2 separate regions of the Homo sapiens genome follow, and region 2 is linked to region 1. A link means that fine-mapping ties the variant in region 1 to the expression of a gene that starts in the linked region. Tissue or cell type: whole blood. Region 1 holds a variant in brackets; the other region holds the start of a gene. All regions are shown on one strand. Distances are between the middles of the regions.

Region 1 (8,106 bases):
GGTCTCTTTAGACTCCTTGAATTTGGAACATATCTTCAGCCTTTCTTAGTCTTTCATCAGACCACGCTTTTGACAGCCTGGCTATTCTAGGTGAGAAAACAAGAAGCCCTTGGCCACGGAGGTGGGGAGAGCTAACCTCATCCTTCAACTGGCTTCTTCAGGTGCCTGGAGAGTGTCCCAGCTGCTGCAGACAGCCACTCATTGTCAGTAGGAAATGACTGTTGAGGACTGTGTATGTTTTTGTGCCTGTGTGTTTCTGAGCTCTTTTGCTGAAAGGCACTGCAAGTGTAAACAACTTATGATTATCACTTTTTGTGGCTTAAAGCCGGTCTCTTGTCACTGGCTTACAGTTTCTAGTTCTTTCTCAATGGTCACATGTTTTGGTTTCTGTCCCCATTTAGTCTCAAAGAAGATGGAGCAGGAACCCCCTATGACAAGGAATCCACAGCCATCATAAAGCTTAATAATACAACCGTGCTTTATTTAAAAGAGGTGACAAAGTTCCTGGCTCTCGTTTGCTTTGTCAGAGAGGAAAGCTTTGAAAGAAAAGGTAACTTTTTGGTGTGATTTAAAAGAAGCATTAAAAGAAGCATCAGACTGCTACTGCATGTATTGTTTGTTGAATGTGGGTGGACAACAGCATAGCCCTCGAAACTTCCAGATGCCAGTCACAGGCCCTCTTGGCTTGGAGTTCAGAGCGGGGCGGGCTCCTGCCCCCAGTGTCAGCTTCTGGGCCAGTGAACTGGCCTGCCCTCTAGTGGTGCATCTGCGATTGCAGCGAGGTGGAAGTGGAACCCCATGATCCTCCCAGGGGCCTTGGCATCTCTGCTAGGGGGAAGCTAGTTGGGGCACTGTTGCCAGGCTGTGAATGAAGTCTCTTACCAGGGAGCAGACTCCCAGCCTATACTGAGGGTGGAGGTCTCCACTTTGCTCCACACCTCTAGAAGGTCTTAGGTAACCGTGTGATCTTTTGTTCTTCCCATGTAAAGGAGGGGACAACAGGTGGTTTGACTTCTGTTCAGCCTCAAAATACTTCTTAAATCTTCAGAACACAGGGATGGCATCATGATTCCGGAAAGGGAAGACCATGAATATATTTAACTCCACCAAATTTTTTTTAGGATCAAATTCAGTTTTATTTTGAAACAAAAGCAATTAAACTAATTTCCCCCTTCTATAATATCTAAACAAAAGTTACTAACAGAAGTCCCTAGCTTACTGATATGGCTAGGGACTTTTGTTAGTAATAGGGTATGGTTTACTAATTTGTTGGGTAAAAGAAAATCTCCAACAAATAGTTACATATCCTGAATATGTTATAGTAACATATCCTGAAATAGCCTTTTTCTTCTATATTATAAGCAATATAAGCCCATTAAATTAAAAATGCTTTGAAAATTTAGGAAAGTATGTAGAATAAAACCAGGTATTTCACCATCTAGAGCTAAACCCATGTTAAATTTCTGGGATTTTCTTTCTCCCTTTCTCTCTCTTTTTTGAGACAGGATCTCGCTCTGTTACTTAGGCTGGAGTGCAGTGGCACAGTCATGGCTTTCTGCAGCTTTGACCACCCGGGCCCAAGTGATCCTCCCACCTCATCCTCCCATGTAGCTAGGACCACAGACACATGTCAACAACCTGGAATTTTTTTTTGTTTTTGGTAGAGATTGGGGTCTCACCATGTTTCCTAGGCTGGTCTCAAACTCCTCGGCTCAAGTGATCCTCCCACCTCGACATCCCAAAGTGCTGGGATTAAAGGAGTGAGCCACCACGTCTGGCCCTTCTCTCTTATTTCCTCTCCCTCCTACCCTCGCTCCTTTTCTCCCTTCCTTCATTCCTTTTTTTCCTTCCTTCCAACAAAACTGGGGCCATATTGTCTAATATAGTTTTATATTCTAATATAGTTTTATATTTAATACAAATATGAAAATATTTATATTTTATATTACATATATTTCACTTACGTATATCATGAAATTTTCCTAATTCATTGGCCATGAAAACTTAATTTACATTGTTTATTTTTATCAGAAAAGTAATAGATTCTTTTAGAAAATTTAGAAATAATATTTAGCAAAAAAACAATAATTATCGATGTTTCTCATTCAGATAACTACTCTTAACATTTCCTGTATACTTTTCCAGTCCTTTCTTGCATATGCATTTTCTAAAAGGACTATGATAGATTGTATGATGAATTCTACTTTATAACCTTCACTTAAATTATTACAGACATGTTTCCAATTCACCGTCTTTTTTTAACCACATCATTTTAATGATTGTATTAGATTCTTCTATTTTCAGACATCTATGTTGTTTCTAGATTTTAATGTTATAAATAATATCATTATGACCTCTTTTGCACTAAATATTTATGTGCATCTTTGGTTGTTTCCTAAGGAAAAATTTAAAGTGGAATTACTTAGATCAAAAGGGTAGGCCCATTTTGGGGGCTTCTAATGCATATTACCAAAATGTTCTTCAGAAAGATTTTCTGGTTTTATGCTGCGAAGAGAATATGAATACTTATTTTGCTGTGTTCTTATCAATATTGGGTATTAGTATTTTTAAAAGTTGTTAACTGAAAACTGGTATATTATGTGAATTTACATTTTCTTGCTGCTTAGTGATGTCCTGTATTTTTCCTGTGTGTACCATGACTGACCAAATTGCCTTTTGTGTCCTTTGGCCTCAGAACTGTAAATTAAATGGTGTTCATCTTTTACTCCTTATTTTCATCTTGCTAGAAACAAGAACAGATTATATAATAGATCACGGAATTTTAAAGATAGACAGGAATACACCTTGTTTCACCCTCTCATGTCACAGATGATTTTACTCAGGCCTAGAAAATATAAATGACTTTCTCTCAACATCACACCACCACTTTATGGCAGTCAGGGCTAAAGGTTGCTGGCCTCAAGTGATCCTCCCTGCTCAGCCTCCCGAAGTGCTGTGCTGTGCCTGGCCTCCTGGTGTGCCTGGTGCCTGGGTGTTTTTATTGTGCAGCTAGGGTTGAGAACTCCTGAACCAGAGAAGGATGTGGGGCCTTATGAACTGTAGGTGGGGTGAAGAGAGTGTTTATTTTGTTTATGTCTCTGTTCATGTATTTTCAAAAACTTTTCATGAGGGTTGAAATAGCAAACACTGTTTATGGATATTTACTGTCTTTAAAAAGCCTCAGTTGTGAACTTTTACTTAAAATTCCAAACACAGCAAGATTACTGTTACATTTTGAAATGTGCAAAGATATGTAAGTTAAGGTTTGTCAAGAACAATAGGGGCGGGTGCCAGTGGTTCATGCCTATGATCCCAGCACTTTGGGAGGCCAAAGTGGAAGGATTGCTTGAGCCTAGAGGTTCAAGACCATCCTGGGCAACATAGTGAGACCTCATCTCTAGGAAAAATTCAAAAATGAGGTGGGAGGATTGCTTGAGCCCAGGAGGTTGAGACTGCAATGAGCTGTGATTGAGCCTTGCACTCCCACCTGGGTGACAGAGTGAGACCCTGCCTCAGAAATAAGAACAGGATATGTCTGAAATTTCCCAAGTTGAGTATTTCATTGTACCCTTCTCATTGAGCCAAGTTCTTTTAGCTAAGCTTTTTAAGACAGTTTGTTGCACATAAAAGCAGAGAATCTTGAGGCTCTCACATCTCATATTCAAATTGCCATTTAAAAATCGTTCCTTTGCTCCTTTGTTTTTATTACTTTTCCCCTTGCTTGTGACATTGGTCTTTCCTTGAGGAAATTGACTCCTGGTTTTACTGCACTAGTGGTTCACTCTCTCTGCAGAAGCAGCAGAGGGCACTACTCAGAGGTTTTCCTGCTCCTGGAAACCGAGACGGTGCCCTCCCCGCCCTCCCCTTGCAGTTAGTTGTATAACTAGTTTGAAGAATTTAATCCTTGGCCGGAATCCTAATTCTTCCTTTGGACGCGGCTCTAGAAGCATCCACTGATAGATAGAAATAATTGTTGGGCTAGTTATTTTAATAAATTCAAAGATAGTAAATAGAACTGACCACCTTATCCTAATTGGTGTAAACATAATGTTGCTCTCAGGACTTTTACAAATTACTAGTAATGATGAAAAATGCACTCATCAAGACTTTGGATTATCTTTTATTCTATTTTTTGTGTCACTGATACATTTCTGAAAACACAAGAAGATTC[C/T]CTCCTACTATTTCTCCACTTAAAATACTTAATACTGAAAAGCTGAGTGTCATTGGTTGTTGAATTTCTGCTGGAGTTGGCGAGATGACTGTTAACACTCTAAAATTAGGGGCTTCGCTTTCCCTCGGGCTTATGAGAATGGTTTAAATATAATAGATACTCAGTAAATATTTATTGATTGATACACAGCTTTGGGATCCCAAGTCAGGATCTGCCTCTACTCAGTCTAATAATGCCCTTTGGGGAGAAACATTTTTCATTACAGATTTCTCTTAATTGTAAGAAATCTTTAATTCTGAAAGGTTAAAAAAAAAGTTCAGTTCAGTCGTTCTTTAAATCTTTTGGGTCATAGGAACCTTTGAAAATATGGTCTATGCTCTGCAACCTTGCATCAGGAAAAATCTTCCTTCACAAGACTTTGCCTATAATTCCTAAAGATTTATAGCAATTTCTGAAGGCCAGCTGCAGACATCCCAGGGAAATCTCTGGTCCTTACGCTAAGACCATCCTCTACTGCCCCCTACTGGCTTGTCCTGGCCATGGGTCCCATGAAAAGATGGAGATTATTTCTACGTGACATTTATAAATATTTTTGTTCTCTTCTCCAGGGCTAATTGACTATAATTTTCATTGCTTCCGGAAGGCCATTCATGAAGTTTTTGAGGTGAGAATGAAAGTAGTAAAATCTCGAAAGGTTCAGAATCGGCTGCAGAAGAAAAAGAGAGCCACCCCTAATGGGACCCCTAGAGTGCTGCTGTAGGTGAGGTTTCAGGAATGTCTTTTGAAATCAGACCTTATCCATGAGGCTGCTGCGCCATGTTGCACTAAAGGAAGAGGAAGAAGGAGATTGGGACACATACCATTGATTTGTTGTTAAAAAAAAAAAATTCCTGCAACCCTCTTGATCTTCTCTTTTATAAATAAAGTAAGCACTTTGAAGCAAAAACTTGTATATTAACAGTGATGTGAAATCCATTGTCATTTCATTACACAAATGTAAACTTTTATGGTCTGTAGTCAAAAAAATCCCGTGTGAGAACTGCCAGGAATTGTACATATTTTGCACTTTTTCATGTTTCTCATTGAACTGAACTTTGATAAAACGACTTTTCTAAGCTTTTTTTCTGTACTTGGTGTCAAGGACATGCATACTGTAGTCCATATCTATATGGCAATCAGAAATTAATCAAAAAGTGATGCATTGGTAATGACTTTTTGTAAATTTGGAAATCTTTGCTACCAATTGTTGAGAAAAATCATTTTTCAGTGGAGCTGGAACAGATTGGAGCTACAAGCTCCAGGAGCAATAAGAACTGTCCCCTATTTATAATGGGTGTAAACAGTTTTGTAGAATAATGCTAGCACCAGACTTACCTAAAAATTTCTATAGCAGTGGCTGTGCTTCCCTGCTCAACGGTTTTTATGAAGCTGTTTACCTCAACACACATCTCTATAATCACTTTATACAGAGAGGTTATTTCTTTTTGTTGCATTAGTATTCTTTTGAAACTTTGGGACCAGATTTCCAAAATGGTGCCGAACACTGGAGAGAAGTAAGAATGTCACTGAATTGTAGGGTTTCTGGAGGCTTTTCTGTACCTACCACCCAGGGCTAAAGTAACATCAGAGGCCTAAAGTTGTTCCAAAAGTATGTGATTGGCAACTGCAGACTAAAAAACATAGATACAATTCTGGACTTTTGGCCCTGTGCGATGGTCTGGTGTGCTGCATTTAAAATGCTTATTCAGGACCAGTTCTTTATTGCTCCATGACCATAGTGAATAGAACAAATCGCAGAACCCCACCATGGAGCTCAATCCTGTTAGTCACTTTTGTCACCTCCACATCTCCTTCTCACTGGTGATAACATGCCTCATGTACTCCACTTGTTCCCACCTTATGATTAAGCCAAGCTCAGCCTGCCACCAGCATGCTCTGCAAGGCTGAAGAGTCATCCTGAAGACCCCTAAAGGTCAGTGGGAAAAGGATGGCTGGAGAGACATTACAATTAGCTGTGTAATTGTTTCTGTGAAATTATTTCACTTATGTTTACTTTAGACTAACAGGAAATTAAGAGTCCTAAATCTACCCCTATGCCAAATCATTCCAAGTAGATAATTTTACGTGCATCTCAAGGGTTAGCACCCTAAGGCATGCTTGTGGGGCATTAGAAAATGAGATTTTTTTTTTTTTAAAGCAGAGCCTCCTAAGAACATCAAAGTTGGTCCTAGCAAAATATATAAAGTCCCTAAAGCAACTTATACTTGAAACTTTTTTTTTTTTTTTTTTTAGAGGGGGGCCTCATTCTGTTGCTTGTGCTGGAATACATTGGTACAATCATAGCTCACTGTTACCTCTTGGGCTCAAGGGATCCTTCCACCTCAGCCTCCCTAGTAGCTAGAACTACAGGTGTGCACAACCACGCCCGGCTAATTCTTAAATTTTGTTTTTGTAGAGACAGGATCTCACTGTGTTGCCCAAGATGGTCTCAAACTCCTGGCCCCAAGCAATCCTCCTGCCTTGGCCTCCTCAAATGCTGAGATTACAGGCCTGAGCTACTGTGCCCAGCCTAAACTTTCCCACTTCTCTCTGTGGCTTCTTTCCAACCTCTCTCCTTCCTCTCCCCAAGTCCTGTTTCTTTGAAGCTGGTAACTGAATTTAAGATGATATCTGGTTGGTGTTTAAGGTTTGAGCCTCCCAAGGTTCTGTGCATTTTGAAAGGAGATTTCTAAAAATAATTAAGGTGCCCTAACTCCTTTCCTCATGATTCCTACTCCGAAACCTGGATGGTTAGGAGCCCAGGGCTCCCTGATTTCCAGAGCTATATCCTGTTGGACCTTTGCCAACAGACCTGACACTTAGGGGTTATTGTTATAAATCTAATTCTCTAATATTTTTTACATGTTGTTTCACTTTGAATAAGCAAATGAAGAATCAGTTTTCTAATATGACTTTATCCTCAAGCTAGAGACACTAGCCTATTTGGTAAATCACACATTACTTAGGTATATTTATTACTATAACCAGGTTGGAGCTTCCATGTTTAAGCTGGGTATATGATGGGTTTTTGTTAAAATGTGCCTTAAAAAGCCTATTACTTCAAGAGCAAATGATTCTTTGGGGGAAAGGCAAAAATAATTCTATGACATAGGGCCCAAGTTCATGGTAGTAAGTGTACTCTTTGATTAATCACACGCTAATATAGATTACTGCCTCTAACTTTGTAAGTGTGGCAATGACTTCTTAATTAAAGAAAGATGCAGGAGTTATGTCTAAGCGTTCAGTTTTTCAAATCTGTGTTATTGGAAATGTCTTCAAGTCATTTTGCATTGTATTTTTGATATGAGAGGCAGCTTATTGCGATGTGTATGGCCATGTTTCATTCTCAAATTTAATTCTATAAATACAAATCCTAAATACATGGCTACAGCAACTGCACTGGAACATTTTTGCTTGGTTTTAGGGATTGAGAACTTGCCTTGCAGGTTTCCTTCCTCAAAAGGAGCAGGGCAGTCCTTTCCCTGTTGAGTCAATTAGAATTTTTACATAGAGGTGAGACTGTGAATTATTTTGGTTATTTTCAGTGATGTAGATTAGTGTGAATGACCAGGGTGGAATGTTTTTGAAGGAATATAAAGCAAAAACTGGTTGACATTCACAAACTGTTCTTTTGTGAACATATTTTGGACCCTTAAATATGACTAAAATCACAGCAATATTGTTACATACGGGTTATATGCCAACTCTGTTTGAAATATACTCTGGAAAAACAGCTGAATTGTCTTGGTTATTAAAGTATGGTATGTATTCAACTTGTACAGACTGGATGTAATTTGTAATCAGGTATAGTCCATGTTTTACTTTAAGCAGTACATCACTTAATAACCATTGTTAAGCCATTGCTTTCAAGAATGTTAACTGCCAATTTAAAAGCA
Region 2 (8,090 bases), 65 kb before region 1:
TAGGAGGCTGAGGTGAGAGGATGGCTTTGAGCCCAGGAGGCAGAGGTTGCAGTGAGTTGAAATTGCACCACTGCACTCTAGCCTGGGTGACAGCGAGACCTTGCCTCAAAAATAAAATAAAATAAAATGAAACCAGTCTGAATGAGTAGAGACCTACTTATTAAGTAAATTCTGATATTTAACATCTTTTCTAACACTGTGTAAATTCTATAGCTCATCTGTATCACTGGATATGAAACAAGGTAGGACGTATTGTATGCTATATTTAGAATACATTTGGAACATAAAGTGTAAACCAGAAGACACTCTTAAAATTAAATTTGCCTCCCCCAAAGCAGAATGTACTGGACTTCAGTCATTCAGTACCATCTTCATGAGTTTTTCCATAGCTGTGTACCTAATATATTATTATTTACTTCATATTTTTCTAGACCTAAGGAGGGCACAGAGAGATGTGGCAGTTGTGAGACTTCAGTTCCACATCTGCCCTATTCAGAAGTCCAAGATGTTCATTCTGGGACTTCCTTTGGCTCTTGAGGAATTGGTCCTGGAGTTTTCAGGATCCAGATGAATAGCTGGGGGCTCTGAGGAAAAAGAACTGGTCGGGCTTATCTGGGGTCTGAGCAGAAAGAAAGCCTCTTGTAACTGGTGGGGGAAAGATATGTCAGAGAACTGAAATGGGATAAGACATCCAAATAAAGGGGCCTTTTATGGGGTGGGGGTAGGTAGGAATCTGTAAATATTTCCTTATAGCGCTTACTAACCTTTTTTGACTTAGGAAACCATTTGAGAATCTGATGAAAGCTATGGAACTTCTTCCCCCTCAAACATACATAAGAGCATTCACTTAAATACTTATACATAATTTTGGGAGATCTTAGAGTATTTGTAGCCCACCACTGAACCCCAGGTTAAAAATTCTTATTTTAGTGACAAATTTAATAGCTGATCCTCAGGTTTATAAAGGAACCCACCAGTAAATAATGCAGACACTTCCCTATAAAAGAGAGAGAACATAGCTATTTCTTCCATCTCTTCCCCCTTGACGGGATGAGGAAGAGCTGGGAAATAGAGATAATGTCACCCCTAAGCTTTTCTCTGCTGCTGTCCCTAACCTCAGTGCCTTGGTACAGTCCAGCAGTGGGGCACCATCAACAGAATTTGTTTTTAAAAAACGTTTAAAAACTTTATTTTGAAATAATATTAGTCTTACATAGAAGTTGCAAAAATAGTACATGAATTCCCTATTCTGTCCTCCCCCTACCCCTGGTAACTACCATTCTACTTTCTGTCTCCATGTGTATGACTACTCTAGGTACCTAATATAAACAGAATCATACAATATTGTCCCTTCTGTGACTAACTTATTTCACCTAGCATAATGTTTTCAAAGTTTACTATTTTGGACCCCCTGACTGGGTGTTTTGCAACTATAGCAAATTAAAATGGGCAATGTAGAAAATCTGAAAATTTCAATGGAAACTAGTATACCAAACATGTCTGGACACTGCTGAACCTATTAACTGGAGGTAGTTTGCAGTTTCAACAGTAGATCATGTTACATTCCTATCCAAGACAATACATCTTTGCAAAGCTGGGTTTTCTGTGGCTGCTGTGATAAAAGCCAAATGCTGCGGAAATATTAATGTGAAACAGGAAATGAGAGTGGCAGTGTCCAACACGATCCCAAGGTTTGAAAAGTAGTATAGGCACACACATACGGTTAGTAATTATGACTTTAAAGGATGTAAAATATTTTTTCTCTCAGTTTATGTATATTATTTTTTCAAACAACTTCTAAGTAAATACTCAGTTGTTTGAACCTAACTACTAACTACTGAAACCTAAGGGAATTGTGAAAAAATTACTAACTACTGAAGCCTAAGGGAATTGTGAAAAAATTAACTCAGACACTAAGGGCTCCATGAAACCAAGTTTCAGAATCTTTGCCTTAACCAAGAAGTAACAAAACAGTGTAAGATTCACCAAGGAAAGCCATGTGACCTTGAAGAAATAAAACAAAGACAATAACACAAACATATCAACCAGGAAGAGGAATTTGGGTTGTTAAAACCATTTTTAAAGGTCACTCTTAGCTTAATCCTTCAAATCCCACACAATGCCTTCTGGATAATTTGCATTTTTAAAAAAACTTCTAAAACGCACGCACCCAAATTACTGTTTTCCCACTTCTTAGGGACTCAAGCAAAGCTTTTAAAATCACAGCCATCAATCTATGTTGGAAGAGACTGGGTCTCCCCTACACAGACAGAACACACCTTCGGGATCCGTGCCAGGGAGACAGGAGAAACTTGGAAGAAGACAGAGACTAAAAGATCCCCCGACTTTGAGACTTTCGGCTTTTTTGTGGTTTGTATCTTACCCTCAATAGCCTGCTTTTAAGTTCAATAACAATGCTCCTTGAGAAAAAAAGAAAAATAAAGAATGCTCCAGGTTATTGTGGAAATGCTTGTTGGGAAACTTCCTTTCCTCAGGGTTTTTCATATAAGCAAGGGAAAAAGTTAACACAACATCCAGAATAGTGGTTCCTTGGGTGGGAGGCGAGAAGTGAGTGGAAGGCAATGGAGAGGGGTACTCAGGGGCTCCAGGGGCCTGGCGATGTTCTAGTTCTTCAGCCGGGTGACTCGTACTTGGGTGTGATCTATTGTTATTCTTTACATTGCACTCTAAGGTTTATACTGTCTGAGTGTATGATGTATTTCACAGTGGCAGCACCAGCATCTCTATACAAGAAGGAGGCCTTGGGAGTTGGAAGTGTGCCTTGTCTCTAAGCTGAGTTGGATCGCAGGCAGTCTGCTTTTACATGGAGCATATGCTTATCTGGAAAGGCTTTGGGGAGGCTGATGAGTTTAAGTGGGAGACTAAGATTAATTTTTGGTGCCACCATGAAAAAACAAGGAGTTAATAAATTCACATTTTTAAAAATTACCATTGGTTTATACCTCCCAACACTGCGACTAGTTGTTTTCTGGTCTCTTTAATTCCTCTTCATCCCTCTTCTACCCTTCCCCCATGTCCAGTATGACCTAGAGGGCAGAAAATACTCCCCAATTTTAATTTGTATCCCTAATTTTTAAAAAATTTTTTGTTACCATATGCTAAACAAATACTAAAGATGACAAAGTGTAACATGTATCGGTATAGACACACCTACTACACTCAAGAACAAGGCTGCAGACCAGTACAGTGGCTCACACCTGTAATCCCAACACTTTGGGAGGCTGAGACAGGAGGAGTTCGAGACCAGCTTAGGCAACACAGTGAGACTCTGTCTCTAGTAAAATAAAAAAATTCAAAATTAGCCAGGTGTGGTGGTCCCAGGCTGAGGTGGGAAGATCGGTTGAGCTAAGGAGGTCAAAGCTTACAGCCTGGGCAACAGAGCGAAACTCTGTCTCAAAACAACAACAACAAAAACCCCGCCAAGGCTGCTATTGGTGTTTTGGGGATGAGAAACCCCCAATCAGTATACCATGGATGGGACCACCTTGGACCCAGGTGTGTTTGTCTTCATTGCCCAAGTTCTTTCCACTTACACTGGCCTAACAGAACCTAAGCATGAATGAATTCAACATCCAACAGGTTCGCAAAAGGTGTCTAACACACAAGAGTACAATGCCAAGCATTTCATTCCCATCACTTCACTGCATGAACACAATACTACGAGGTTATGTACAATACCTGCAGTTTAGAGTTCTAAAAACTAAGGTTTAAAGAAGTGGGTTTTCCAAAGTCACACACCTAACAAGTGGTGGAGTCAGAACTCCATCTCACGGGCCCGAAGTGGCTCTTTACTACCACGTGACCCATCTCATGCTACCTCGCGGGGGAAACATTCTTGACCAGCTTTGAGACATTCAAGTCCCTCTTGGGTCACAAATAATGCTGCACTTCCCCTCCAGTCCCCGAGATCTACCGGAAGCAACACACTTAAAAGCCCAAGATAAGCTTGGGTGAGCTGATGTCTGGACCCAAACCAGACAGCACGCCGACTCTCTGGACCCCGGGAGATGCCACTTGCTGAGGCTTCGCCGATGGGGCTCCTGAGGGGTATCGGCCCCTCTCCTGCGACTGCACCCTAGTGCTGTCGTCCAGGGCGGGGAGGGACGGGGTCATTCGGAGGCGGCCGCAGGCCAGGGACCTACCCTCCTACGCGCCGCAGACCGCGGGGTACTCGGACCCCCGCCCCCACCGCCCTTCCTTCAAACTGCAAGCGAGCAGGAGAACGAGGGACGAGCCCCAGAAGAAAGTTCTCCACCTCCCTCGCCCGAAGTTCCATATTCCAGGGAGGCAACTGATGCCAGGCGAAGAGGGAGGCGCCCCGGGGGGACCCCCTCGCGCCGGGCGTTTTCGGAGGCCGCAGGCCAGGGGGCGAGGCGCGGTGTCCGGGTCTCCTCCGCGGGCAGTCGGCGATCCTGGGGTGCCGAGGGAGCAGCGCCCCCTTCCCCCGACAGCGTCCTCCCCGACCTGAGGCGCCCACCCCGGTGTAAGCGGGGGTCCCAGGGAGCCGGCGAGGTCGCCTGGTACCTTTCTCTCCCGCGCCGGACGTCCGCGCCGCAGGGACCAAGGCCGGCGACACGGTGGGGGGCGAGGGGCGAAGACGGGGACTGGCTCCCGCTGGCTCCGGCGGCCCCAGGGCCTCGGCGCCGCCCAGCGCCGTGCCTCCAGCCGCCCGCGCGCCAGGCAGCGCTCTCGGCTCCTGCGGGTTACCTGTGGCCGAGCCCGCCGCGTCCGCCGCCGCAGGGCCCTCTGCCCCGTCCCGCCGGCCCCGCCCCACCCCTGCCGGCGGCTCCTACGCCGGTGCCGCAGCGCCTCCCAGCGGCGAGCCGGGGCACGGCAGGGACCCTCGCGAGAGAGAGGTGGCACCGCGGAGGCCCTGGGGCTGGCCCCGATCTGCAGCCCTCTCCTGGGTGGGGCCACCGCCTTCTGAAGAGTGGGAGGAAGGGGGCCTATAGTAGGGTGAGGTTTTCCGCGTGGGGGTTGCCAGGAAGTGTATTGGGAGGGGAGGAGAATTAGCAGGAGGAACCTCCCACCTTCACTCAATTCGTGGCCAAGTGGATATTTCAATATAACCATAGCTCACTTAACTGGGGCTGCTCAGTACAAACTGAACAACAATGATGAATGACCCAGATTTATTGGGGTAGCTGGAGAGGGGAAAGGAAGCCTTTATTTCTAACAGCTTGACTATAAGTATCTTGTTGGAATCATCCCATATGGAAATGGCAAAAGCATTGAGCGAGCCTGACCCCCATATTCATATCACACTTTACATACCATTATCTCAGTCTGGTTTTGTCTATTTTCATTCACAGCCACTTCTTCAATACCTAGAAGAGCTCCCTGAACACAGGAAGCATTCAATAAGCTACTGTTGAATACATGTAAGATGGATGGGATCTCATTCCACCCTTTGAAGAAGCATGGACAGGTATCTGCTCTCCAAAGGCGGAGAGATGGAAGAGGAGGCAAGCAGCACCCTAAAATGGACTATCAATCTTACCTGAGGTTTTGGGACAAGCTTATCACGAATCTGATTTTTTTTTCTTTCTTGCTTAAAATTTTTTTTTGAGACGAAGTCTCACTCTGTCACCCAGGCTGGAGTGCAATGGCACCATCTAGGCTCACTGCAACCTCCGCCTCCCAGGTTCAAGTGATTCTCCTGCCTCAGCCTCCTGAGTAGCTGGGATTACAGGTGCCCGCCACCATCCCTGGCTAATTTTTGTATTTTTAGTAGAGATGGGGTTTCACCATATTGGTCAGGCTGGTCTCGAACTCCTGACCTCGTGATCCTCCAGCCTCGGCCTCCCAAAGTGCTGGGATTACAGGCATGAGCCACTGCACCCAGCCGACTTTTCTTATTCCCTCTGAAACAGGCCTGGTTTCCAGGAGAAAAGAAACATGATGATTTCTTCCTTTTCCTTAAGATGTTTGTTTCCCTCTCTCCTTCAGGGATCATTAGGCAGGAGAGATCCCAAGAGCCTGTTTCCACACTAGGAAGGGGAAGTTCTTGATTTTCTCCTACTGCTTCTGAAATTTTCCCAACCCCATAGTCACAGCTGCAGTTTTACCTAACAGGATGTGAAATCTCTCTTCTGAGTATCCTTTGGCCTTTTCCAGACTTTTTTTTCCCCCTTAAGATGGGGCCTTGCTGTGTCACCCAGGCTGAAGTGCAGTAGCCCACTGCAGTCTTGAACTCCTGGGCTCAAGCAATCCTCCTGCCTCTGCCTCCTGAATAGTTGGGATTACAAGTGTGCACCACCATGCCCAGCTAATTTTTTTATGTTTAACACAGAGGAGGTCAAGGCTGGTCTTGAACTCCTGGGCTCAAGTAATCCTCCGGCCTCAGCCTCCCAAAGTGTTGGGATTACAGGTGTGAGCCACCGCGCCCAGCCCTTCTTCAGATTTGTGCCCCATTCCTGTTGCTCTACACCTGGAGCTGATAGAAGAACACATTTCCTTTCTCTGCTGGCTTGTAGCTCCAGGTTTCTCTCCAGGCAGGTTACTAATGAGTTCCTAGATAACCCTCAAAGTCAAAGTTTGTACACATGACCTTTCTTTTTATTTTTTGAGATGGAGTTTTGCTTTTATTGCCCAGGCTAGAGTGCAGTGGTGCAATCTCGGCTCACTGCAACCTCCACCTTCCGGTTTCAAGCAATTCTCCTGCCTCAGCCTCCCAAGTAGCTGGGATTACAGGCGCCTGCCACCACGCCCAGCTAATTTTTTTGTATTTTTAGTAGAGACGGAGTTTCACCATGTTGGTCAGGCTGATCTCGAACTGCTGACCTTGTGATCCACCTGCCTCAGCCTCCCAAAGTGCTGGGATTACAGGTGTGAGCCACCGCGCCCAGCCACATGACCTTTCAATGTGATCATTTCTCTCTTGTACTTTTCCACATTGAGTTTTCCTAGCTAGTCCCTCGAATAAACTTCCAAAGATGCAAATGCTCAGTTTCCCTGATAGGCTTTTAAAACATCACCAGAAAGTCACATTGAGATGAGATTTTAAGTTATATTTGTGGGTAGTCAGAGCAATGACCCCGAAAGAAACAGAAAGCCCAAGCCAGCCTGCAAGACATGTGAGCGCTCCTGGGAACTGACTGGTCTGCTTTTGTTCCCAGACTTTGATTAATGGGGATTCCTGGCAGGAGGTCTCATGAGAGCCAAAGCAGGCAGTGGCTGAGCTGCTTGGAGATCTTGCTTGCTTATCTCCAAGTGGGCAGACAGTCTTTGGGCGACCAACGAAGAAGACTCCTAAATCTCCCTCTTTATGAGAAGGGCTCCCAGGCTGCAGCTCTGTTCTTGCCCCTACGTTCAGCTCAATCACAGCCAGCCTCTTATATTCACCCTAGCTCACCCTCCTTCTGCCTTGTGAGAAAGAAGTTTGCTCTGCAAATGATCATTTTCACTGCTTTGTGATAATATAATCTGCTCCTATTTTCAACAACATGTCTTTAATGAGCTGACTGCATTAGCTGTCTTTCATGTTGTTAGCTTCAACGCAGCCTTCAACACACCATTCTGGCTTCCATCCCTGCCACTCCACTGAAACTGCCTTTGCTAAAGCTTCCACTCAAGGAAGAACCCTTCCATCTGCCGCTCTATAATCATATCCTTCTCTTTCAGAGGAAACCACCATCCTAAGTTTTGTGTTAATAATTATGTTATCACAAATATATGTGTCCCTAAACACTACATGGTTTGTTTTTGCGTGTTTTTGAGCTTTTTTAAAATAGAATCATTCTGCATTATTCCCATGCAACTTGCAGCTTTTGCCCAGCATTATGTTTCTGAGATTCACCTATCTGATTTCTCTGTTATATAGGTATTTTGTTGTAAAAACATAACACAATTTAATTACCCATTCTACTTTTGGATGTTGGATTGGCTCCAGTTTTTGCTATTGCAAACAGTGTTGCTGTGAATATTCTTAAATATTTCTCCGATACATGTGTGTAAGAATGTTTTTTAGGATATATACCTAGAAGTGGAATCATCAGGTCTTAAGGTAAGTGCACGTTCAAATTTACTAGGTAATGTCAAACTGTCTAAACTGGTTGTTTTCTAAAATT

Evidence for each region. PIP is the estimated chance that this variant, and not a neighbour inherited with it, causes the effect.
Region 2: ANKRD6 starts here. The variant in region 1 is fine-mapped to the expression of ANKRD6 in whole blood (TOPMed, PIP 0.97).

The regions. Positions count from the first base shown.
Region 1 is chr6:89,364,881-89,372,986 of GRCh38, reverse strand. RRAGD (Ras related GTP binding D) reads left to right here. Exons shown (of 7, transcript NM_021244.5): 6 at 402-550; 7 at 4,780-8,106. The coding sequence ends at 4,931. Among named protein-coding and RNA genes, the nearest start is that of UBE2J1, 16 kb to the right of the region's middle. RefSeq lists enhancers at 1-103, 474-693, 603-897, 4,721-4,950. The variant C/T (reference allele first, on the strand shown) is at 4,172.
Region 2 is chr6:89,429,831-89,437,920 of GRCh38, reverse strand. It overlaps ANKRD6 (ankyrin repeat domain 6), which reads right to left and starts at 4,769. Exons shown (of 16, transcript NM_001242809.2): 1 at 4,546-4,769. It overlaps LOC124901360 (a long non-coding RNA gene), which reads left to right. Exons shown (of 2, transcript XR_007059675.1): 1 at 1-4,504; 2 at 5,334-7,713. RefSeq lists a silencer at 4,498-4,977.